Homo sapiens: one gene and its partners. The protein of the gene in region 1 purifies or fractionates together with the protein of each later gene. This does not show direct contact. Each region holds a gene or a part of one and is shown in the gene's direction. Other genes may lie near its edges.

Region 1 (3,500 bases):
AGAAATACTGAAGTTGCAGAGACACTAATAATTGATAATATTAGCACTGCACTGTATTTTAATTCTTTTTCTCCTGTAGGAAAAAGAAGAACTGATTGAAGAGTGGCAACCAGAACCTCTTGTTCCTCCTGTCCCAAAAGACCATCCTGCTCTCAACTACAACATCGTTTCAGGGTAAATTGATTTTGCTACCTGAAGTACTTGTATTTGGCTTCTTGTAGTAACCTGCAGTCTATAGTGCTTTATATGTAGTAGTCCTTTTTTTATCTGAAACAAAACATTTTGAAGTTCCCAGGAGTAACAGCTTTAGCTCCTGATTTTAAAAAATTTATTCTAGGGATGATACAGGCATTTTTTAAAATCTCCAATTTAAGCATTAATGTTTGCCCTTTTTTCCAAGAATGCACACATGTTAATATTTCCAATGGTCGAACACTTAAAATGAAAAGCAACAGACTTCTGCTTTTTACCCATCTGGTTATTTTCTGATTTTAAATTTGTCGCACGTTACCCTCATAATTCTAGATACTGTATAGTATGCTTAACTACCATTTGTTGATTCATCAACTACAGACAACACCTGTTGATCCCCACAATATGAATTATGGAGCTTCCGCTCACTTATGCCTCTTTCCTCCTTGCTTCCAGTGTCTCATCTATTTTTTACTTTTCATTCTCTTGGCTATCTTTGCTATATTGTATGTATTTTCATTAATTAAGAAATACAGTAAGAATATAGAAAGTTATCAGATATAGATATAGATATCAGACACCTATATACCTACCACCCAGAATTAATTGGTGTTAACATTTTGCTATTTTTAATTCAAACTTACTTTTACAGGTAAATACAATATTACAAATGCATCTTAAGAAATTCCTTCACATCCATCACTTACTCTTGCCTCTCATACGGATAACTACTGTCTTGAAGTTGGTGATTGTGTTTTCTTTGCCTATATTTATAATTTTACCATATATGCCTGTTGCCATAAAAATACTTGGTTTATTTTAAAATGTGATACAAGATATTTTCCTGAGTAGTATTGTTCTGATTCTGATCTGATCAAACAGGAGCTTCTATTCTTTACTTCTGTAGATCTCTTCAGTCTTATAAAACTTTTATATATTCTGAAATCAAACCTACCAATCTTTTTTTTTTGAGACAGAGTCTCGCTCTGTCGCCCAGTCTGGAGTGTAGTGGCGCAATCTCGGCTCACTGCAAGCTTCGCCTCCCGGGTTCACGCCATTATCCTGCCTCAGCCTCCCGAGGAGCTGGGACTACAGGCGCATGCTGCCATGCCCGGCTAATTTTTTGTATTTTTAGTAGAGATGGAGTTTCACTGTGTTAGCCAGGATGGTCTCGATTTCCTGACTTTGTGATCCGCCGGCCTCGGCCTCCCAAAGTGCTGGGATTACAGGCGTGAGCCGCCGCACCTGGCCCAAATTTACCAATCTTTTATAGTTTGGTCTTTTGAAGTCTTAGGGAATCGTTTCCTACCCTAAAGATCTAATTTGATTGTTTTCCATATGATGGTCAGTTGTCTCAGCATTATTAGTTGAATAATCCAGTATTTACCTACTGCTTGGAAATTTCCCTTCTTTGGTAAGCCAGATTCCCTTCTAAAGGGTCTATTTCTGGCTTTTATTTTTATTCATTGGATATATTCGTATCTCCTTATACCAGAGACTCATTCATGTATACCACAGCTTTATAATAAACGTTGATTAGAATGTTTTTCTATCTCCGTGTTCTTCAAAATTGTCTAGACTATTCTTGACCCTTCTTCACTGTGAGTTTAGGTTTAGGTGATCATATTTAACCAAAAAAATGCATTTGGGTTTTTTATTAGAAGTGTGTTGAATTTATGGATTAATTTAGGAGGCTTGGTATCTTGCTGATACTTAATCTCACTACCCATTTACATGGTATATATTGCTTGCATACTTGGGTCTTTTGTTTTCTATAGTAAAGTTGCTGGAAGAGGAGGAGGGGAGGAAAGAGGAGGAGAGGAATGCACACATATGGGTGTAGGAGGCTCCCTTCTGAAGGGAGGCTGGAAGGAGAAAGATGTGGGGCTAGGATGTGTGGGGCATGGGTCAGAGGTCAGAGGCACTGAAACTGCAGCTGAATGAGAGCAGCCTCCTTTCTCATTAGGTGGAACCCCCAAAATGGGGGCAAGGTCAGTGGGAAGAGCCAGGGAAGAGTTAGGAATTATGGATATCAAATTTTACTCAATTCTTGGTGTGAGAGAAGGTGGAGGGACAGGCAAAATGAGGGGCCCAACAGCACGTGGGCCGAGTCAGAGTAAGACGAGGAGCTGGGATCCGTGAAGTGTAGGTGGCCAGGGGCAGGGAGTCTCAGCAGGTGTGGAGACAGCAGGGGCAGGCTGGGTGCCACTGCAGTTTGCCATGTCTTACTTTTTTTTTTTTTTTTTTTTGAGACGGAGTCTTGCTTTGTCACCAGGCTGGAGTGCAGTGGTGCGATCTCGGCTCACTGCAACCTCCACTTCCTGGGTTCAAGCCATTCTCCTGCCTCAGCCTCTCGAGTAGCTGAGACTACAGGCACAAGCCACCATGCCTGCCTAATTTTTGTATTTTCAGTAGAGACGGAGTTTCACCATGTTGGCCAGAATGATCTCAATCTCCTTTTTTTTAATTAAAAAGTAAACTTTAATGTCGAAAATGCAGACTTGGGGAGGGCAGAAAGATCACACACAAGGCTGTCACTTCACACTTGGAAGGTTGCACAGCAGCGGGCAGAGACGCTCCTCACTTCCCAGATGGTGAGGGGGCCGGGCAGAGGCGCTCCTCACTTCCCAGACGGTGCAGGGGCTGGGCAGAGGCGCTCCTCCCTTACAAACGGTGAGGGGGCCGGGCAGAGGTGCTCCTCACTTGCCAGACAGGGTGGCGGCTGGGCAGAAGTGCTCCTCACTTCCCAGATGGGACGGCGGCCAGGCAGAGGTGCTTCTCATTTCCCAGATGGTGAGGAGGCCGGGCAGAGGCACTCCTCACTTCGCAGACAGGACGGCGGCAAGGCAGAGGCGCTCCTCATTTCCCAGACGGTGAGGAGGCCGGGCAGAGGCACTCCTCACTTCGCAGACAGGACGGCGGCAAGGCAGAGGCGCTCCTTACTTCCCAGACAGGGCGGCGGCTGGGCAGAGGCACTCCTCACTTCCCGGGCTGTGAGGCGGCCAGGCAGAGGCACTCGTCACTTCCCAGAGAGGGTGGGGGCCTGGCAGAGGCGCTCCTCACTGCCCAGACGGTGCGGTGGCCAGGCAGAGGCGCTCCTCACTTCCCAGATGGTGGGGCGGCTGGGCAGAGGCGCTCCTCACTTCCCAGATGGTGGAGCAGCCGGGCAGAGGCGCTCCTCACTTCCCAGATGGTACAGGCAGAGATGCTCCTCAGGTCTCAATCTCTTGACCTCCTGATCCACCCGCCTGGGCCTCCCAAAGTGCTGGATTACAGGCGTGGGCCACCACGCCTGCCCTGCTGTCTCT
Region 2 (3,500 bases), on another chromosome or scaffold:
CTCAAAAAAAAAAAAAAGTGTGAAATGCAGGTATGAGTGGTCAGACATCTTTAGGGGGCATTTCCATAGCAACAAAGTGATTTTTTTTTGGTACCAAGTTTGATTCTTGTGGAACTTCTGTGAGTGTAGGTGATCCTGCCTTGAGGAGAGTGGGATCTATTTGTTAATTCATCCATTAGACCTAGAAGCCTATTTTTAATTATTCATTTCAATTCTTAGAATATCTTCTCCAAGATTTTATCATGGATTTTTTTTTTTCTTTTATGAGACAGGGTCTCTCTCTGTCACCCAAGCTGGAGTGCAGTGAGATGATCTCAGCTCACTGCAACCTCCCCTCTCCGGGCTCAAATGATCCTCCCACCTCAGCCTCCCATATAGCTGGGACCAGGGGTGCACACCACCACACCCAGCTTTTTTTTTGTATCTTTAGTAGAGACAGGGGTCTTGCCATGTTGCCCAGGCTGGTCTAGAACTCTTGAGCTCAACCAGTCTGCCTGCCTCGGCCTCCCAAAGTGCTGGAATTACAGGCGTGACCGACCACACCCAGCCTATCATGGATGTTTTCAAACAAAAAAAAAAGGTTAAAAGAATTAGTGAACACCCATATGCCCTCTACTTAAATTCTATCATATACACTTTACTATATATTCACCTATCCATCTGTTCATCTCTCTCTCCATCACTATATCAATTCATTTTATTTCTGATGTATTTAAAGTTGCAGACATCAGTATACATGACCCTTAAACACTTCAGCATGCACAGCATTATTTAGAGTTAAATATTTGTTTGCAGCTCTTTTTGTGTGTGTGTGGCAAAATTGGCTTACACTAACATGCTTGAATCTTAAATGCATCAAGTTTTACAAACATAGACATCTGTGTAGCCCCAAACCCTATCAAAATACAGAATGTTACTGTCACCCCATAGAGTCCTCTCATGCCCCATCCTAGACAATCCCCACACCCTTGCTTCCTCCAGGCAACCCCTGTTCTACTTTTCATTTCCACCATAAATTAGTTTTGCCTATTCTGGGACTTCATGTTAGTGGAATCATACTCTAGAAGCTTTATATGTTAGCTCTTAAATTTAGGTCTATGGTCCATCTTGAGTTAATTCATATGTGGGGTGAGATAGGAACTATGACCCTTTATTTACACTATACATACAAATTAATTCAAGATGGATCATAGAGTTAGTTTTTCTTTTCTTTTTCTTTTCTTTTTTTTTTGTTGTTGTTGTTGAGACAGAGTTTCGCTCTTGTTGCCCAGGCTAGAGTGCAATGGCACGATCTCGGCTCACTGCAACCTCCACCTCCCAGGTTCAAGCGATTCTCCTGCCTCATCCTCCCGAGTAGCTGGGATTACAGGCATGTACCACCGCGCCCAACTAATTTTGTATTTTTAGTAGAGATGGGGTTTCTCCTTGTTAATCAGGCTGGTCTCAAACTCCGGACCTCCGGTGGTCTGCCTGCCTCGGCCTCCCAAAGTGCTGGGATTACAGGCATGAGCCACCGCGCCCAGCCTAGAGTTAGTTTTTCTTTGCATGTTTTTTAACATGTTAGGAACATATGTATATATTGACATCTACCCCATTCCTTCAGTAGTAAATCTAGGCGTAAATCAAAATGCTATTCTACATCACAGAATCATTGATGGTAATCCTCTTTCTAGAGATTTCTTTGAATGTCCTTCACTTATTTTACTGTCTTTTAAAAGTAACAGAAAATTGCCCTGAAAAATAATTTATAATTTAAATATTTTCTACTCTGAGGTTTTTCTTTTGTCTATTTTAACTTTATAGTCACTTTCACAGGAATTATATGGGAAAATGATCACAAAGCAGAGAATAGACTAGTTTTTTGTGTGTGTGTGTGACAGGGTCTCACTCTGTCACTCAGGCTGGAGTGCGGTGGCACAATTGTAGCCCACTGAAACCTTGAACTCCCAGGCTGAGCCTCCTAAAGTGCTGGGATTACAGGCATGAGCCACTGTGCCTGGCCTTAAGATTTTTATGTGATTTATTAGTTTTTAGCCCCAAAGTACTGTTTAAATTGTTCTTACACATAAGACATTCATTTTTACCTCCTCATGTGAAGAGTTAGACTTTTATTTGAAGATGATTTTTCCCCCGGGCAGCTTTATTAATTCACACATTTAGGTAATAGGACCTCTGGATCTTCACAAGGCAAAGGATGTTTTTATTTTTGTCAGTGCTTAACTCTTAGAGAAATCAGAATTTTTTTTTTTTTTTTTTTTTTTTCGAGACACAGTTTTGCTGTTGCCCAGGCTGGAGTGCAATGGCGCAATCTTGGCTCACTGCAACTTCCATCTCCCAGGTTCAAGCGATTCTTCTGCCTCAGCCCCCTGAGTAGCTGGGATTACAGGCACACACCACCACGCCTGGCTAATTTTTTTGAATTTTTAGTAAAGACATGGTTTCACCATGTTGGCCAGGCTGGTCTCAAACTCCTGACCTCAGGTGATCTGCCTGCCTTGGCCTCCCAAAGTGCTGGGATTACAGGCATGAGCTACCGTGCCCGGCCTAAATATTGACAAAATATTTGATCATAGTGTCTTTTTCCCCACCTCTGGTGTTTTCATATGCCTTTACTTATGAAGGAGAGCACAGAGTAAGGTTAGCAAAGATAGAATCTCTGAGTTTATATTCCAGACACACATACTTTATTTGTCACCTCAAATTTCCCAACTATTCATCCGAATTAAGGAGAATTTATTTTTTTTTCCTGCTAGTCCATTTTAGTATAATATTTTGAGGGTGTTTTCTGTATCTGATAATTTTATTTAGTGATACTTGGGGATGTCATAATCAGAAATAACTCACTCTCCATTTTAGCCAAAGCCTCACTTGTTTTTTTGAGACGGAGTTTTGCTTTTGTTGCCCAGGCTGGAGTGCAGTGGTGAGGTCTCGGCTTACTGCAACCTCCGCCTCCCGGGTTCAAGTGATTCTCTTGTCTCAGCCTCCCAAGTAGCTGAGATTACAGGCACGCGCCACCACGCCTGGCTAATTTTTGTATTTTTAGTAGAGATGGAGTTTCACCATGTTGGCTGGGCTGGTCTCGGACTCCTGACCTCAGGTGATCCACCTCCCTCAGCCTCCCAAAGTGCTGGGATTATAGGCGTGAGCCACCACGCCCAGCCACATAATAATTAAAAGAGTTATTAGAGGCTAGGTGTAGTGTCTCACATCTGTAATCCCATCAGTTTGGGAGGCCAAGGCAGATGGATCGCTTGAGGTCAGGAGTTTGAGACCAGCCTGGCCAACATGGCGAAACCTTGTCTCTATCAAAAATATAAAAATTAGTTGGGTGTGGTGGTGCGCGCCTATGATTCCAGCTACTTGGGAGGCTGAGGCATGAGAATCGCTTGAACTTGGGAGGCAGAGGTTATAGTGAGCAGATTGCACCACTGCACTCCAGCCTGGGGAACAGAGTGAGACTCTGTCTCAAAAATATTGAATAAAAATAAAAGAGTTATTAG
Region 3 (3,500 bases), about 29 Mb from region 1:
GTCATTGTGGCTTTACCAGACTTGATTTTTTATAAATTGATTTCCTTTTTAAGTATCATTATTTTATTCTTTTAAAATACTAATGGATAGTATATGAAAGTTTCTTCCCCTTCACAGTGGGCACTTTGTCCACACTGTTTAAAGAATGCTCACTTTTGTTGTACTACTTAACTGTCCTTGCATGAGGTTTACATTCAGATAAAAATGATTATTTGGTTTATGGACACACATTTTTGAAAGTGGAAGAGCCAGGAGCTGTAATTTTACATGAAAAAAAGTTAATGGCTGAAGTGCCTTTTAGTTGAAACCATCCATTCCTAAAGTGTTCATATCTAGATTACCATATCTGTTTGGAAGGGGGAAAAAGGGAAGGATTTTACCAGTTGGTGTCAAATAAGCTCATAAATGTACAAAGACAGTTTATCCATAACCCCCCTCCCCACCCCAGGTAAAGGCCAAAGCCCTTTGCTGTTTCCCAAGGGTACATATTTTTTTCTTACAACTTTGCAGAGCTGCCTTTAACTTTGGCCTAACTTCACTTGTATGAATGGTTCCAAGGTGGATATAGGTTGGTGGGTGATATTTTGCCTTGGATTTGAACTTACTGCATACGTGCCCCCAAACCCCTACTCCCAGCTGCCCCTTGTGTATACACATAGACATCTCTTATCAGTTACTGTTAACTATAAACTCAATCCTTTCTAGGGATAGTGTGGGGTAGGATAGTATTTGTCTCAAGATCTCAGTTTGGGTTTCTACCTGAGATCTAATGTCCTCCTACCACTGACTCACTGAGTGACCTTCAGCAAGTCCTTTTGCCTTATTTGAGCTTCAGTTTCCTTACTGATAGCCTAAAGGAGTTGAACCTAGTGGCTTTCAAACTTTTTGAGGATCTCAGAACTGTTTGAAAACCTGATGGAAGCCATGAATCTTCTCCTCTAGGGAATGCCCACAATTACAGTATTTACAGTATTTCAAGGTATTTACAGATCCCCTGGAGCTTGTCCATGAACCCTTAGTAATCTTACTCAGCTATATCGTAATCTTTGGACTAGACCAGGTGTCACCAAAGTATGTATGGCCTGTGGGCCACATTCAGCCCACAGCCTGTTTTTGACTGGCTTGTGAACTAAGGATGATTTTTAAATTTTTAAAGGGTTGTTAAAAACAACAACAAAAAAACCCAGCAACGAACATGTAACAGAGACCATATGAGGCCCACAAACCTGAAGAATATAGTATTTATTCTTTACAGAAAGTTTGTCAACCCCTGACCTAGATCATTGCTAAGGTCCTTTGTAGTAATGACTTCATGAATCTGTAGCCCTGTCTAGTGGATAATTGCTAGTACTTGGTTTTCTTTTTAGGCCCAGTCATTTTTTCTATCAAGATTTTTGGATTTCAGAATTTGCATGGTTGGTTTAAATTACTGCTTTTGTTACAAGGTGTCTTTCTTTTGATCACAAATTAGGTAATAATTCTCATAGGAAATAAAGCAGATTTGGAGGCACAGAGAGATGTTACATATGAAGAAGCCAAACAGTTTGCTGAAGAAAATGGTGAGTTTCTTTAAGACTTAATGGTCACAATTGGGAGAATTTTTAAGGAAAGGTGGGCTTGACAGTTTTGTTGGTTTTTTTTTGCATTTTTTTTTTAAATGCAGACTCAGAAATCTCAAGAATGAGGAAGTAACAATGTGTTTCTATTTCTGTGTGATTTATGTTGGAGCAGTACAGTTATTTAGTGACAAATATAAAGATGCTCTCCACCTCAAACTTACATACTTTTTCATAAAATACTATGGGAGGAGTACTAAAAACTGATGGGAAACTTTTTCAGATGTTACTAAAGAAGTGCACTTGTGAGTTAGTTTGAAGTGTCCTAATTATAGTCTGAATTTTATTTTTAGGCTTATTGTTCCTCGAAGCGAGTGCAAAAACGTAAGTGTGACCAAAATACAGATATTTCAATTATATTCAAGTTTCTCAAAGTAGAACCGTATATATGAAAAGTATATAATGTATATACACATATAAAGTACTATCTATAAATGTGTAATGCTTACTGCAGGAAGAACAGCAAACATCTCTTTGCTTCCTTTTTTACATTTCAAAATAATATGAATTTTTGTTACTTAAAAGATTGTACCTTGATTATGCCTGTTGGTAACCCAGGTTAATAAATGAAACTTTGTTTACATTTCAAAAGTGTTTGACTTTTCCCAAATGACAGTGTTTGACTTTTCACAAGTGAGGTTGAGTTTGGCATCTCAGACAAGCTTGGTCAATCTGTTCTTCCTGTAATACTTCTGATCACATTAAAAAGCATGATTTAAGGGAATAGTGTCTACTCAGAAGCATAGTGAACATTTTCTAATTGTTCTTCCATGTCTGCTATTGAACTGTGGTACACCCATCATTGTTCTTCATTTATTAGGCCAAAAATTTCTTGTGGTGAGGAGAGGCTAACCTGTTTTCGTTTAGTCTCAGCTGTGCTATTAGTCCAAAGAAAACTGAATGGAGGTGTTAACGTGGCTAAGCATGATTATGTCACCATTACCCGATTAAAAACAGCTCAGTTCATGCTTGGCTGAGCAGACCATATTATTCTTGGAATTTTTTTCAGCATGTTCAGAGAGATTTCATTTCTGTTTGGAGTATCCTCTCTGTTATCACAGAAATGACCTATCTGAATTGTCATGGTGTGTATTAACATACAGTATTTTAATGATTGCATATAACACATGTAGTTGTCCAAATAGGGTTTGTAGAAAGGGCTTTCAGTACACGTATGTATGTATGCTTTCCATAGAAAGTAGTTTTCCGGCCGGGTGTGGTGGCTCATACCTGTAATCCCAGCACTTTGGGAAGCCAAGGCAGGCGGATCACGAGGTCAGGAGATCGAGACCACCCTGGCCAACATGGTGAAACCCTGTCTTTACTAAAAATACAAAAATTAGCTGGGCGTGGTGGTGTGCTCCTGTAGTCCCAGCTACTCGGGAGGCTGAAGCAGGAGAATCGCTTGAACTTGGGAGGTGGAGGTTGCAGTGAGCTGAGATCGGGCCACTGCACTCCAGCCTGGTGACAGAGTGAGTCTCTGTCTCAAAAAAAAAAAAAAAAAAAAAAGGAAAATAGTTTTCCATGTTCTCTTAGCTCAGTGTTCTGGTAATCTCTTATTAGATGACAGTGGTTAAGTTGGAGACATCATGGCAGTTAACTAAAGATTAGCAAAAGGTCAGTGTCTTGTCTTTTGTAGAAAACTGTGGTTCTCCAATAAAGTTATCAATTGCCTCTTAGGGGAGAGAATGTAGAAGATGCCTTCCTTGAGGCTGCCAAGAAAATCTATCAGAACATTCAGGATGGAAGCTTGGATCTGAATGCTGCTGAGTCTGGTGTACAACACAAACCTTCAGCCCCGCAGGGAGGCCGGCTAACCAGTGAACCCCAACCCCAGAGAGAAGGCTGTGGCTGCTAGTGACCTCTTTGCTGTGGCCCCTCATT
Region 4 (3,005 bases), on another chromosome or scaffold:
CCATTCTAAATCTTTATTCCACACCTGCTCTGCCAGTAGGCCCTTCCTTATGTAATATTTTCTTTCCTTTGCTTCCAGTCTCTTATTTCATACTCTCTTATGACTTTTGGCCCAGCAATGCTGTCTTACCTTCCTGTTGATGTGTGTCATTCCTTAGTGACCAACTCCTTTTCATCTGAGGACAACTCTAATGTTGCTTTCCAGTACCATTCCTCCTTCCCTTTCTGAATTTGTCCTAGAGAAAAACTCCCTCCCACCATTTGTACAGCATTCCCACAGACTCAACACGATTTTCCAGGTAGGTGTGTATTGCTTATTTTGGCACTCACTGCCCAGCTTTCCTCGATGTCCTACACACTATGCTGCACCCATTGCTTCTCAGTTCAGTCCAGACCTGCATAGACTGCTGCAGTTAGCCTGTACAGATCCATCTCTTTTGCCTTCTTTCTAATCTTTTGCCCTAGTGACATACCCTTTTCTTTAATTATTATTCTAACAAAGCTTTCTGGAAATACCTCATAAGTGTCTCTTACTTTGTCATGGTCTCCCCCAGGTGGTTGAGACCTGGCAGCTCCCTCCCACCTTTCCCACTCTGCCCTTTGCCACACTGCATTTTCTGTACCCTGGCCCAACTCACATGTCCCTCTCCTGTCTTAGCTGCCAGCATCTATCTTTTCTCTAATTCGCTGGGTTCTTTTCATACAAATCTCCTTAGTGGTTGACTCTCATTTTCAGTGAATCCTCACAAGACAAGCTTAATTTCAGAGAACAGTTTTAATGCAGATCTTCAGGGCATTCTTTCCTGATTCTCTTTGGTATTTGCCTTGCTTTGTCTGTGTAACTCTCATATTTACATTATGGCAGTGCATTCAGTATTTTCTTGCCATGGAAAGGCCCCCGCATCTTGCCTCCTCGCCCCATTTCGTCATCCTCTCCAGCAGCTTCGACAGATTACTGCCTAGACTTCCTTAGATCCCTGTAACCTCTCATTGTATCAATCAAACCATTTAAGTAAAAAAATTCCCACTAAGGTTTCAGGAACATTATCTCTACTAACACCATTCCTATTTACTTCCTTAATCTCTTTCTCTGTATCAGGTCCTTATATGTAAGTGTCTTCTGTCTTTACCTCCACATAAAACTCAGCCCCTGTGCCCAGTCTGTGATCTGCCTTCATACCTGATGTTGTCTCTTTGTCCTCCTCATTTGCTGTAGCCTCTCTGCTTAATTGGAACCACACTGGGTTGCTATAATTAATGTCTCTCCTGACTCTTCATTCTAACTTGATCATGACCTTTTCCCCTACCATATTCTGTATCTCTTTCATGGTTTAAAAAAAATGCCTCACCTGACCTGTTCTGGCCTTGTGTTAACTTTCACTTCTTTCCCCTTCTCTCTGAAGAAAATCCTATCCTAATTAAACCACAGTCGTTCTTTTCTCAACCCCTAATGGCATTGAAATTGATTCTGCAGGCTTGATAGGTTCATTCTTTCCTATATGGGAAAACCCACTGCCATCGTCTGTTTTCAGCATATTCTGTTGAATCCATCTGCTCTCTGAATTCAGACCCATTCTTCATAGTCCCCACCAGTGGCTTAAATTAGGCACCTTATCTAGCTTATCTCTAACCTTTCAATCTCTTGACTGCCTCAGCTCACCAGAGCCTGTTGGAAAATCATTTGAAATACAAGGTATTTTACAATTTATTCCTAAACAAATTATCTTCTCAGCACCTAGGCATTAGCATGCCTCTTACTGTTTCCAGCTGCCCGGTGGACTTTCTGGCCTCTTTCCTTTTGCCTGTTTGTACATCTTCCTCTGCTTGCCAAAGCTCTTTTGCATCTTTTGAGAGCCAGTTAAACTATTATATCGTTTCACATTTTTTACAGTTTTCCCAGGCTATTTGTTAATCCCGCACCCTCACATGGCACTCTCTTAAAACTTAAAGGATCTATGGCATTGAGTTGTAAAGTCATAGATAGATCACACACACACACAGCCCACACACTTATTTAACTCCTAGACAGCTCCTAGAGACAGAGATCATGTCTCAGTCATCTTTTTATCCAAGTGTCTGGCACATAAGCTTATACCTTTACGTGTAATGTCAACATGTATTGACAGTCACTACATGTGTGGATGGATGAATGGATGGAATTTAAAGTCAAGACTGAGCAGATGAAAGTCTTATTACCCAATCTGTCGTATATGGTCTTCACATCTGAGCCTGTTCTTTCCTCTCCTTGCCTATCCCCCAAATAACTTTTTAACTCTCCCAATATCTAATATTTTTTGTACCTATAAGCTTTTTCCAGACCATAGACAAGATCCTAAATGCCTTTTCTTCATCCCTGCTTGCTAAATCCCCTCCTTCAAACATTTCAGAAAATACTGTCTTTACTTTTTATAAAGACTTCACTTTCCAAAAATGTACCCCCACCTCCATTTCTTATTACTTAACACCACTTGTGTGAAAACATACAACTGCCCACTTGCTTTTCCATTTAAGACACTGACTTTACCAATACTAGAAACTCATTACTGACCTACTCACTTTAGGCTGAAGGTTGACAGATAAAGCAAGTTCTCTCTGGTGATCTGTGGACCCGCCATCAGTCCACAATCTAAAGATAGTATTGAGATGCTGATGAGATTGGTCAATGTTAATCTGATGATCTGTATGCTTTTTACCACAGGTTTTTTTTTTGTTTTTTTTTTTGGTCAGGTCCTACAGCAGTGGTTCTCAAAATATTTATTTTTCAACATTTAGGCCCCTTTGATAGGCATGGCAAAAAGCCCCCAAAAGTACCTCTCTGCTGCTTTCTTCATACCAATAGAGAAACAGTCTGCCCATGTTATCATTTCTGTACTGCTGTAACCCACAGCGTGGAATAGACTTTACATTCATGCTTTGTGAGACTGCCTTCCTGACCCGCTTGTAGGCTGCTTTTGAGAACCACTACCCCAGACAACAGGGCATGTGTGTTTAACTGGAAAATGTGGA
Region 5 (2,598 bases), on another chromosome or scaffold:
ACAAGGGTTGTGGGAAGGATGTAATTATGGTAAGCATAGCTGGAGCAAAGACTGTATAACCAACTCTGTTTTTTCTTTCCTTTTTTTTTTTTAAATTCTTTTTAAATTGATACAGGGTCCCGCTATGTTACCCAGTCTAGTCTTGAACTCCTGGGCTCAGGCAGTCCTCCTGTTTGGCCTCCCAAAGTGCTAGCCACTGCGCCTGGCTCCAACTCTTCTTTTTCTTGGAAAGGGAGCATCTAATTCAGCAGTCCCAACCTTTTTGCTGCCAGGGACTGGTTTTGTGGAAGTCAATTTTCCATAGACCTGGGGTCAGGAAAATGGTTTTTGGATGATTCAAGCACATTACATTTATTGTACACTTTATATTTTACAATGTAATAATAGAAATAAATAATTATACAACTCAACATAATGTAGAATCAGTGGGAGCCCTGAGCTTGTTTTCCTGCAGCTAGACAGTCTCATCTAGGGGTGATGGGAGACAGCGACAGATCATCAGGTATTAGATTATCATAAGGAGAGTGCAACCTAGATCCCTTGCTTGTGCAGTTTGCAGTAGGGTTTGTGCTATGAGAAGCTAATGCCGCTGCTGATCTGATGGGAGGCAGAACTCAGGCGGTAATGCAAGCAATGGGGAGTGGCTGTAAATACAGATGAAACTTCACTGGCTTGCCTGCTGCTCACTTCCTGCTGTCTGTGTGGCCCAGTTCCTAACAAGACATAGACCAGTACCGGCCTGGGGGTTTGGGACCCCTGATATAATTGTATCTTAAAGACTGTGGTAGAACCTAGCAGGCAAGAACTCTTAAGTTATGACATCAAAGCATTAAATTATTTGGATTAAGACTGGACAGAAAGCAATGCCTCGTAGTATCTGCAAAAGGGCAAAAGAGGAACTTAATGTAGGTATGAGAGATGCCAAAAATGTTTATAACAAGCAAGATAAAAATGGAGATTCATTATGGACAATTCATTGATAATAGAGAACTTATTTATACCTAACCTTGTTCCCGAAAGGTTATAAAATGTCTTACAGATGAATGTACAATAAAATATCGAATGTAATTAAAGATACATAGATAAGGACATCCATAGAGAAAATGAGAAAGGACTAGTAGTGTAGTTCACAAAATGTACCATTAGTTCTTGCATATTTTTTTAAGAACTTGACTTAAGTTTTCTAGCAGTCATCCTAAAGAGGAAAGATAATAATTTTTACATTGGCTATTAAAATTCAAACAAATAGTCACCGAGGATCTAAGATCAGAGAGAAGTTTATTGAAGGTCTTCATAAATGACATTATACTGTCCTCAGTAACTTCCTCGCAGTAAATATGTCAACAAGTTCTTAGGGCTTTTAACCATAAGGCTGATGGTTTAACTCAGAGACAATTCATTAAAAGTGATTCTATAGGAGTCCAAAATGATAGATTCCAGGTATTCAGACGGATAAAAAGTCATTGATAATCTCATGATATTTTTGTGAGTATGATGAGTAATAGGGTTTGGATAGGTTCTTGTTTGATTTTTATCTTTCCTAAACCTATTTTTCTGATTAGACCATCTTCAGTTTCTGAATTATAAAATCTGTAGGAGTTTTAAATAACAAAACCTTCAAGATAGGGTAGGGAATATTTTCATTTTATTGCCACTGACATCCTTTTGGGGGAAGTTAAGAATTCTTTTAAAAAATCCCCAATTGTATCAGAGTTATCAGACCAGTTCTCTTTGTCATATGAAGATTATTAAAACTCTTCCTTTTACCTGTTAATTACAAAATGAAGACACATATTAACATGCCTATTTTTTCTCTTAACAGCATATCTTTCTGAAGCCATGAAGCTGACACAGTCAGAGCAGGTGAGACATATTCCCAATATTTGCGACAAGGGTTAGAAAGGTTTTCTTGTGGAGGCTTGAATTGTGTGTAAAGCAAAGCATTGTGTCCCTCTCAAAATGCTATAGTCAAAAATATATAAAATGGGCAAGGGAAGAGCACTTCACAACGGAAATTAAAACTAAATGAACTGCAGTCGATGCCCCAGACATGGAATGCAGAAACTTCTTTTTTTCTAGTGGTTACTCACAGATCTCAGATTGCCAGCCAGATGTACCTTTTAGAGAGCCCTCTTCGGACCATTCCTAATCATTAGCTCTTATTTGATCATTAGCTTACAGTCAGTAAACAGGCCTGGCCAAGAGGAAACTAGTTGGACCACCCTTTGCTTGTCAAAGATAATTTAAATCTGACCAGTCTCCCACTTGTCTTTGCTTGAATTCTTAAGCAGTTCAGGCACTTTTAAATTTGTTTCACCAATTGCTTTAAATTGTCTTCTGTGTTTGGGGAGGCCCTGCCAAGTGTTTCAAGATACATTTATTCATAAGACTGGGCATGGTGGCCCATGCCTGTAATCCCAGCACTTTGGGAGGCCAAGGCAGGGGGATCACTTGAGCCCAGGAGTTCGAGACCAGCCTTGGCAACACAGTGAGACCCCATCTCTACAAAAACTTAAAAAATTAGCTGGGCGTGGTGGCACATGCCTGTAGTTCTAGCTACTTGGGAGGTTGAGGTGAGAGGATCACTGAACACCTGAG
Region 6 (3,500 bases), on another chromosome or scaffold:
GTTCAAGCGATTCTCCTGCCTCAGCCTCCCGAGTAGCTGGGACTACAGACACACACCACCACACCCAGCTAATTTTTGTATTTTTAGTAGAGACGGGGTTACACCTTGCTGGCCCAGCTGGTCTCGAACTCCTGACCTCAGGTGACCCACCCTGGCCTCCGAAAGTGCTGGGATTACAGGCGTAAGCCACTGCGTCCAGCGTGTTTTTGTTGTTGTTGTTGTTGTTGTTGTTTTGAGATGGAATCTTGCTCTGCCTCCTCCACCTCCCGGGTTCTAGCGATTCTCCTGCCTTAGCCTTGCAAGTAGCTAGGATTACAGGTGCCTGCCACCACACCCGGCTAATTTTTTTGTATTTTTGTTTCATTTTGTTTTGTTTTTTGAGATGGAGTTTCGCTCTTGTTCCCCAGGCTGGAGTACAATGGCGCAATCTCAGCTCGCCGCAACCTCTGCTTCCCAGGTTCAAGCGATTCACCTGCCTCAGCCTTCCCAAGCTGAAATTACAGGCACGTGCCACCATGCCCAGCTAATTTTGTGTTTTTAGTAGAGACAGAGTTTCTCCATGTTGGTCAGGTTGGTCTCGAACTCCCGACCTCAGGTGATCTGCCCACCTCGGCCTCCCAAAGTGCTGGGATTACAGGCATGAGCCACAGTGCCTGGCCATTTTTTTGTATTTTTAGTAGAGATGGGGTTTCACCATGTTGGCCAGGCTGGTCTTGAACTCCTGCCCATCTTGGCCTCTCAAAGTGCTGGGATCACAGGTGTGAGCCACCGTGCCTGGCCTGTTTGTTTGTTTGTGTGTTTTGAGACGGAGTTTCACTCTTCGCATCCAGGCTGGAGTGCAGTGGTGTGATATTGGCTCACTGCAATCTCCGCCTCCCAGTTTCAAGCAATTCTCCTGCCTCAGCCTCCCAAGTAGCTGGAATTACGCCACCATGCCCGGCTAATTTTTGTATTTTTAGTAGAGACAGGGTTTCATCACGTTGGCCGGGCTGATCTTGAACTCCTGGCCTCAGGTGATCCGCCCGCCTTGGCCTCCCAAGGTGCCGGGATTACAGATGTGAGCTACTGCTCCCAGCCTTTTTTGTTTTTTCCGAGACGGAGTCTCGCTCTGTCGCCCAGGCTGGAGTGCAGTGGCGTGATCTCGGCTCACTGCAACCTCCATCTCCTGGATTCAAGCAGTTCTCCTGTCCCAGCCTACTGAGTAGCTGGGATTATAGGCGCAGGCCACCACGCCCGACTAATTTTTTTGTATTTTTAGTAGAGACAGGGTTTCACCATGTTGGCCAAGGTGGTCTCAAACTCCTGACTTCAGGTGATCTGCCTGCCTCAGCCTCCCAAAGTGTTGGGATTACAGGCATGAGCCACCACTCCCAGCCTTTTTTTTTTTTTTTCCAATTGTAGAAATGGAGTCTCACAATGTTGTCCAGACTGTCTCAAACTCCTGGGCTCAAGTGATTCTCCCGCCTCAGCCTTCCAAAGTCATGGGATTACAGGCAGGAGACACATGCTTGGCCTCCCTCTGGTTTTTGCTCTTAACCATTCCTCCAGCTGTAATCATGCATGTCTCTGGTGACCATGTATATCTCACACTTGCAGAGATAGTCCCAGTTTTTTGGGGTTTTTTTTGTTATTATTTTTTTTGAGACAGAGTTTCACTCTTGTTGCCCAGGCTGGAGTGCAGTGGTGTGATCTCGACTCACCACAAGCGTTTCCTGCCTCAGCCTCCCGAGTAGCTGGGATTACAGGTATGCGCCCCCATGCCTGGCTAATTTTGTATTTTTAGTAGAAACAGAGTTTCACCATATTGGTGAGACTGGTCTTGAAGTCCCGACCTCAGGTAATCTGCCTGCCTCGGCCTCCGAAAGTGCTGGGATTACAGGCGTGAGCCACTGAACCCGGCCAACAGTCCCAGTTTTAAATGGTTTGCATCACTGCCAGTTTTTTTTGTTGTTTTTGTTTTTTTCTGAGACAGGGTCTCTCACTCTGTCACCCAGGCTGGAGTGCAGTGGCACAATCTCAACTCACTGCAACCTCCACCTCCCGGCTTCAAGCGATTCCCGTGCCTCAGCCTCCTGAGTAGCTGGATTACAGGAGCCCGGCACCACAGCTGGCTAATTTTTGTATTTTTAGTAGAGATGAGGTTTCACCATGTTGACCAGACTTGTCTCCAATTCCTGACCTCAGGTGATTCGCCTGCCTCGTCCTCCCAAAGTGCTGTGATTATAGGCGTGAGCTACCGCACCCAGCCAGATTACTGAATTTTGATGTAAGAAATAAGATCTTTCGGTCGAGCGCGGTCGCTCACACCTGTAATCCCAGCACTTTGGGAGGCCGAGGTGGATGGATCACCTGAGGTCAGGAGTTCAAGAGAGCCTGGCCAACATGGTAAAACCCCGTCTCTCCTAAAAATACAAAAAATTAACCAGGTGTGGTGGTGTATGCTTGTAGTCCTGGCTACTCAGGAGGCTGAGGGAGGAGAATCGCCTGAACTCGGGAGGTGGAGGTTGCAGTGAGCCGAGATTGTGCCAGTGCATTCCTGCCTAGACCATAGAGTGATACTCCATCTCAAAAAATTAAAGTAACATAAAAGAAATATGATCTTTTAATATGTCTCTATTTAATTAAAATCTTATGAATGCCTCTGTATTGTATTGGAGCTTCAGAGATTCATATCCCACATTATAGCACATAAAAAGTCTTTTATCTGGCCTGGCACGGTGGCTCATGCCTGTAATCCCAGCACTTTGGGAGGCTGAGGCAGGCAGATCACCTGAGGTCATGAGTTCGAGACCAGTTTGGCCAACATAGTGAAACCCCGTCTCTACTAAAAAATACAAAAATTAGCCAGGCGTAGTGGCGTGTACCTGTAGTCCCAGCTACTCAGGGAGACTAAGGCAGGAGAATCACTTGAACCTGGGAGGCGGAGGTTGCAGTGAACTGAGATTGCACCACTGCACTCTAGCCTGGGCAACAGAGCAAGACTCTGTCTCAAAAGAAAAAGAAAAAAAAAGTATTTTATCTTTGAATTTGTCAGTGACAGTATTATAGCTTTAATGTCAAATTTTGGAGGTCATTTTCTTAAGAAAGACTACATGTCTTAAAAATGGATAGGATGTTAGTTCATGAGTAGGTAGTAATTCTAAATCTGATTGCTCCAAAGAAATGTCCAAATTCATTTATTTTTTTGAGACAGACTCTTGTTCTGTTGCTCAGGCTGGAGTGCAGTGGTGTGATCTCGGCTCACTGCAGCCTCCACCTCCCAGGTTCAAGCAATCCTCCTGCTTCAGCCTCCTTAGTAGCTGGGATTACAGGCACACACCACCACACTTGGCTAATTTTTGTATTTTTAGCAGAGACCAGGTTTCACCATGTTGCCAGGCTAGTCTCGAACTCCTGACCTCATGATCCGCCTGCCTCTACCTCCCAAAGTGCTGGGATTACAGGCATGAGCTGCCGCGCCCAGCCAAATTCATTTATTACACTAGAATGTTGATACATTG
Region 7 (3,500 bases), on another chromosome or scaffold:
CAGCCACTGATAGGAGCCATCGCTGCAGGTCTGGTGCCACCTTATGTCTATATACCTTTTTAGGGAGGCTTATTTTCTCATATTAATTGGAAATTAAGGATAGTGGCTAATTAAATACATTTACTTGGTGATTTGCCTTTGTTTACACCACCAGTGTACTGAGAATTCATACATACCATACATATTTTTAAATGGGCTGCTGAGGAGATTTGTGTGGCTATGTTTTGAAGCACCTGGGGAATGAACCTGTGGGAGTGTAAAGATGTGTGAGTCAGCAGGCCCAGGAGTTTGGAGTCAGGCATCCATGTTCTAATATGGTTTCAGTTGCTGGCTCTGGCTTCGGATGAACCATTTGATTCTGTCTGACCAGTTTCTTCATTCAAATAAAGACTATGAGAGTAATGCTAGCTTGGGTATATAGCAAATGCCAGGAGATTAATTTCTCACTTTGCAGGATCCAGATAGAGAGATGTATGTTGAAATGGCTCACTTGCCCAATAATTCCAGGGCAGAGAGGACAATCTAAGGGCAGAAGTGGGAGAAAAGCGATAGAAAGCTGGAGGAGTGGGAAAGGCTGCTGGAACCCATTGTCAGTGACCTGAAGATGAGGACAGCTAAGGAGTTAGCCTTAGAAGAGAAAGTGAGATGAGCTCTTATGCTAATTATGAGGATATGCAGCATTGAGAGCTGCAGAAATAATTGGGAGTACCTAGCCTGTTCTTCCCACTGAACATCATTTTGGTAGCTATTAAAGTTAAATATTAGATGATACTGTTCTACTTTTTACTTTATTTAGGAAATGCTGTGATTATAAAGCCTTCTGAACTGAGTGAAAATACAGCCAAGATCTTGGCAAAGCTTCTCCCTCAGTATTTAGACCAGGTAAGAATTTCTTGACTCATCTCCAACATATGTGTTTACTGTGGAAAACACACATTTTATTTTCTTGCTATTGCATGTTATTGCTGGCCGGGGACCCAATTGCAGTCTCTTTAAGCCTTCAACAGTTGGCTTAGCAAAAGAAGTTCGGTTCCAAAATACACGGAGTGTATTTTGTGTGGAGTCACCCAGCTCTTGGGGTTACACAATATATGTAGGCCCATGGCTTCATGCCAAACAGATTCTGTGTTTGTCTGGGATTTGGGGTTAATTTTTGAGCTAACATGATTTTAGGTGTTTTCATTTAATGGATTATTTAATGAGGGACTGGTACTGTGCTGGGTGCTGACATATTTCTGTTACTAACAATCTCTTTTGTTCTAACAAAATGTACTTTTCTGTGATTATATAAGAGTACTTTTTTTTTTTTTTTGAGATGGAATCTTGCTCTGTCACCCAGGCTGTAGTGCTGTGGTGTGATCTCGGCTCACTGCAACCTTTGCCTCCTGGGTGCAAGCGATTCTTCTGCCTCAGCCTCCCAAGTAGCTGGGATTACAGACGTGTGCCACCATGCCCAGCTAGTTTTTGTATTTTTGGTAGCGATGGGGTTTCACCGTGTTGGTCAGGCTGGTCTCGAGCTCCTGACCTCAGGTGATCCGCCCAGCTTGGCCTCCGAAAGTGCTGGGATTACAGGTGTGAGCCACCATGCCCATGTGTCTGGAATTGGTGGGTTCTCGGTCTCACTGACTTCAAGAATGAAGCCGCGGACCCTTGCAGTGAGTGTTACAGTTCTTAAAGATGGTGTGTCCGGAGTTTGTTTCTTCTGATGTTCGGACATGTTCGGAGTTTCTTCCTTCTGGTGGGTTCGTGGTCTTGCTGGCTTCAGGAGTGAAGCTGCAGACCTTCGTGGTGAGTGTTACAGCTCTTAAGGCGGCGCATCTGGAGTTGTTAGTTCCTCCTGTCTGGAGTTGTTCATTCCTCCCGGTGGGTTCGTGGTCTCGCTGGCCTCAGGAGTGAAGCTGCAGACCTTCGCAGTGAGTGTTACAGCTCATAACGGCAGTGCGGACCCAGAGTGAGCAGCAGCAGCAAGATTTATTGCAAAGACTGAAAGAACAAAGCTTCCACAGTGTCAAAGGGGACCCGAGCAGGTTGCCGCTGCTGGCTTGGGCAGCCTGCTTTTATTCCCTTATCTGGCCCCACCCGCATCCTGCTGATTGGTCCATTTTACAGAGAGCTGATTGGTCCGTTTTGACAGGGTGCTGATTGGTGCGTTTACAATCCCTGAGCTAGACACAGAATGCTGATTGGTGCATTTACAATCCTCTAGCTAGACATAAAAGTTCTCCAAGTCCCCACTAGATTAGCTAGACACAGAGCACTGATTGGTGCATTTACAAACCTTGAGCTAGACATAGAGTGCTGACTGGTGCTTTTACAATCCTCTAGCTAGACATAAAAGTTCTCCAAATCCCCACCAGATTAGCTAGATACAGAGTGCTGATTGGTGCATCCACAAACCCCAAGCTAGACACAGAGTGCTGATTGGTGCATATACAATCCTCCGGCTAGACATAAAAGTTCTCTAAGTCCCCACCCGACTCAGGAGCCCAGCTGGCTTTGCCTAGTGGATCCCACGCCGGGGCTGTGGGTGGAGCTGCCCATCAGTCCAGCGCTGCGCGCCTGCACCCCTCAGCCCTTGGGCGGTCGATGGGACTGGGCGCTGTGGAGCAGGGGGCGGCGCCCATCAGGGAGGCTCGGGCAGCATGGGAACCCACCAGGGGCGGGGTGGGGGCCTTGGGCATGGCGGGCTGCAGGTCCCGAGCCCTGCCCTGCGGGGAGGTGGCTGAGGCCCGGCGAGAATTCGAGTGTGGCGCTGGTGGGCTGGCATTGCTGGGGGACCCGGGGCACCCTCCTCAGCAGCTGGCCCAGGTGCTAAGCCCCTCATTGCCCAGGGCTGGCGGCGCCGGCCAGCTGCTCCGAGTGTGGGGCCCATTGAGCCTGCGCCCACCCAGAACTCGCTCTGGCTTGTGAGCGCCACGCGCAGCCCCGGTTCCTGCCTGCGCCTCTCCCTCCACACCTTCCCACAAGCAGAAGGAGCCGGCTCCAGCCTTGGCCAGCCCAGAGAGGGGCTCCCACAGTGCAGCTGTGGGCTGAAGGGCTCCTCAAGCGTGGCGAGAGTGGGTGCCAAGGCCAAGGAGGTGCTGAGAGCGAGCAAGGGTTGCCCGCACGCTCTCACCTCTCACCCAGCCTATAAGAGTACTTCTGCTTTCAAAAAAGACATGTCTGTGGCATGAAAACATGCCACACATACACAAAAAGTGCCCTCCTGAACTAGAGGGCAGATCCTCACACTGACTTAACATGCTGGCATTTAAGAATATCAAGAACTGAATAAAGAAAATGATCTGCCCAACTGCGGGTAGTTCATCTGTCTGAGTCAGAGGTTCTTATGCCTTCCTGGGGAGGAAGTTATGATGCCGCGAAGAAATTGGCACTGCTGAGTTCTACATGCAGTTGCTACAGGGAGGAGTCTTCATTTAGCTTTAAGCGAAATACAGCTTAAAAATATCTTACCTGTATTCTGTACATCAACTTGTGATGGATTGAGGCCAGTTCTGGTT

What was found.
Region 2: the proteins of SPTLC1 (region 1) and FAM76A purify together in Homo sapiens (affinity purification with mass spectrometry; one large-scale study listed by BioGRID and IntAct). This does not show direct contact.
Region 3: the proteins of SPTLC1 (region 1) and RAB14 purify together in Homo sapiens (affinity purification with mass spectrometry; one large-scale study listed by BioGRID and IntAct). This does not show direct contact.
Region 4: the proteins of SPTLC1 (region 1) and COPG2 purify together in Homo sapiens (affinity purification with mass spectrometry; one large-scale study listed by BioGRID and IntAct). This does not show direct contact.
Region 5: the proteins of SPTLC1 (region 1) and NRBF2 purify together in Homo sapiens (affinity purification with mass spectrometry; one large-scale study listed by BioGRID and IntAct). This does not show direct contact.
Region 6: the proteins of SPTLC1 (region 1) and CDK12 purify together in Homo sapiens (affinity purification with mass spectrometry; one large-scale study listed by BioGRID and IntAct). This does not show direct contact.
Region 7: the proteins of SPTLC1 (region 1) and ALDH3A2 purify together in Homo sapiens (affinity purification with mass spectrometry; one large-scale study listed by BioGRID and IntAct). This does not show direct contact.

Annotation. Positions count from the first base shown.
Region 1 is NC_000009.12:92,105,414-92,108,913, reverse strand, and holds part of SPTLC1 (serine palmitoyltransferase 1), read left to right. Parts: intron 1-79; coding exon 80-174; intron 175-3,500. UniProt on the Homo sapiens protein: Component of the serine palmitoyltransferase multisubunit enzyme (SPT) that catalyzes the initial and rate-limiting step in sphingolipid biosynthesis by condensing L-serine and activated acyl-CoA (most commonly palmitoyl-CoA) to form long-chain bases.
Region 2 is NC_000001.11:27,728,961-27,732,460, forward strand, and holds part of FAM76A (protein FAM76A), read left to right. Parts: intron 1-1,271; coding exon of another isoform or gene 1,272-1,373; intron 1,374-3,500.
Region 3 is NC_000009.12:121,181,370-121,184,869, reverse strand, and holds part of RAB14 (ras-related protein Rab-14), read left to right. Parts: intron 1-1,471; coding exon 1,472-1,559; intron 1,560-1,909; coding exon 1,910-1,940; intron 1,941-3,296; coding exon 3,297-3,474; 3' UTR 3,475-3,500.
Region 4 is NC_000007.14:130,508,744-130,511,748, reverse strand, and holds part of COPG2 (coatomer subunit gamma-2), read left to right. Parts: intron 1-3,005. UniProt on the Homo sapiens protein: The coatomer is a cytosolic protein complex that binds to dilysine motifs and reversibly associates with Golgi non-clathrin-coated vesicles, which further mediate biosynthetic protein transport from the ER, via the Golgi up to the trans Golgi network.
Region 5 is NC_000010.11:63,150,328-63,152,925, forward strand, and holds part of NRBF2 (nuclear receptor-binding factor 2), read left to right. Parts: exon of another isoform or gene 1-29; intron 30-1,822; coding exon 1,823-1,863; intron 1,864-2,598. UniProt on the Homo sapiens protein: May modulate transcriptional activation by target nuclear receptors. Can act as transcriptional activator (in vitro). Involved in starvation-induced autophagy probably by its association with PI3K complex I (PI3KC3-C1).
Region 6 is NC_000017.11:39,520,486-39,523,985, forward strand, and holds part of CDK12 (cyclin-dependent kinase 12), read left to right. Parts: intron 1-3,500. UniProt on the Homo sapiens protein: Cyclin-dependent kinase that phosphorylates the C-terminal domain (CTD) of the large subunit of RNA polymerase II (POLR2A), thereby acting as a key regulator of transcription elongation.
Region 7 is NC_000017.11:19,651,751-19,655,250, forward strand, and holds part of ALDH3A2 (aldehyde dehydrogenase family 3 member A2), read left to right. Parts: coding exon 1-28; intron 29-796; coding exon 797-882; intron 883-3,500.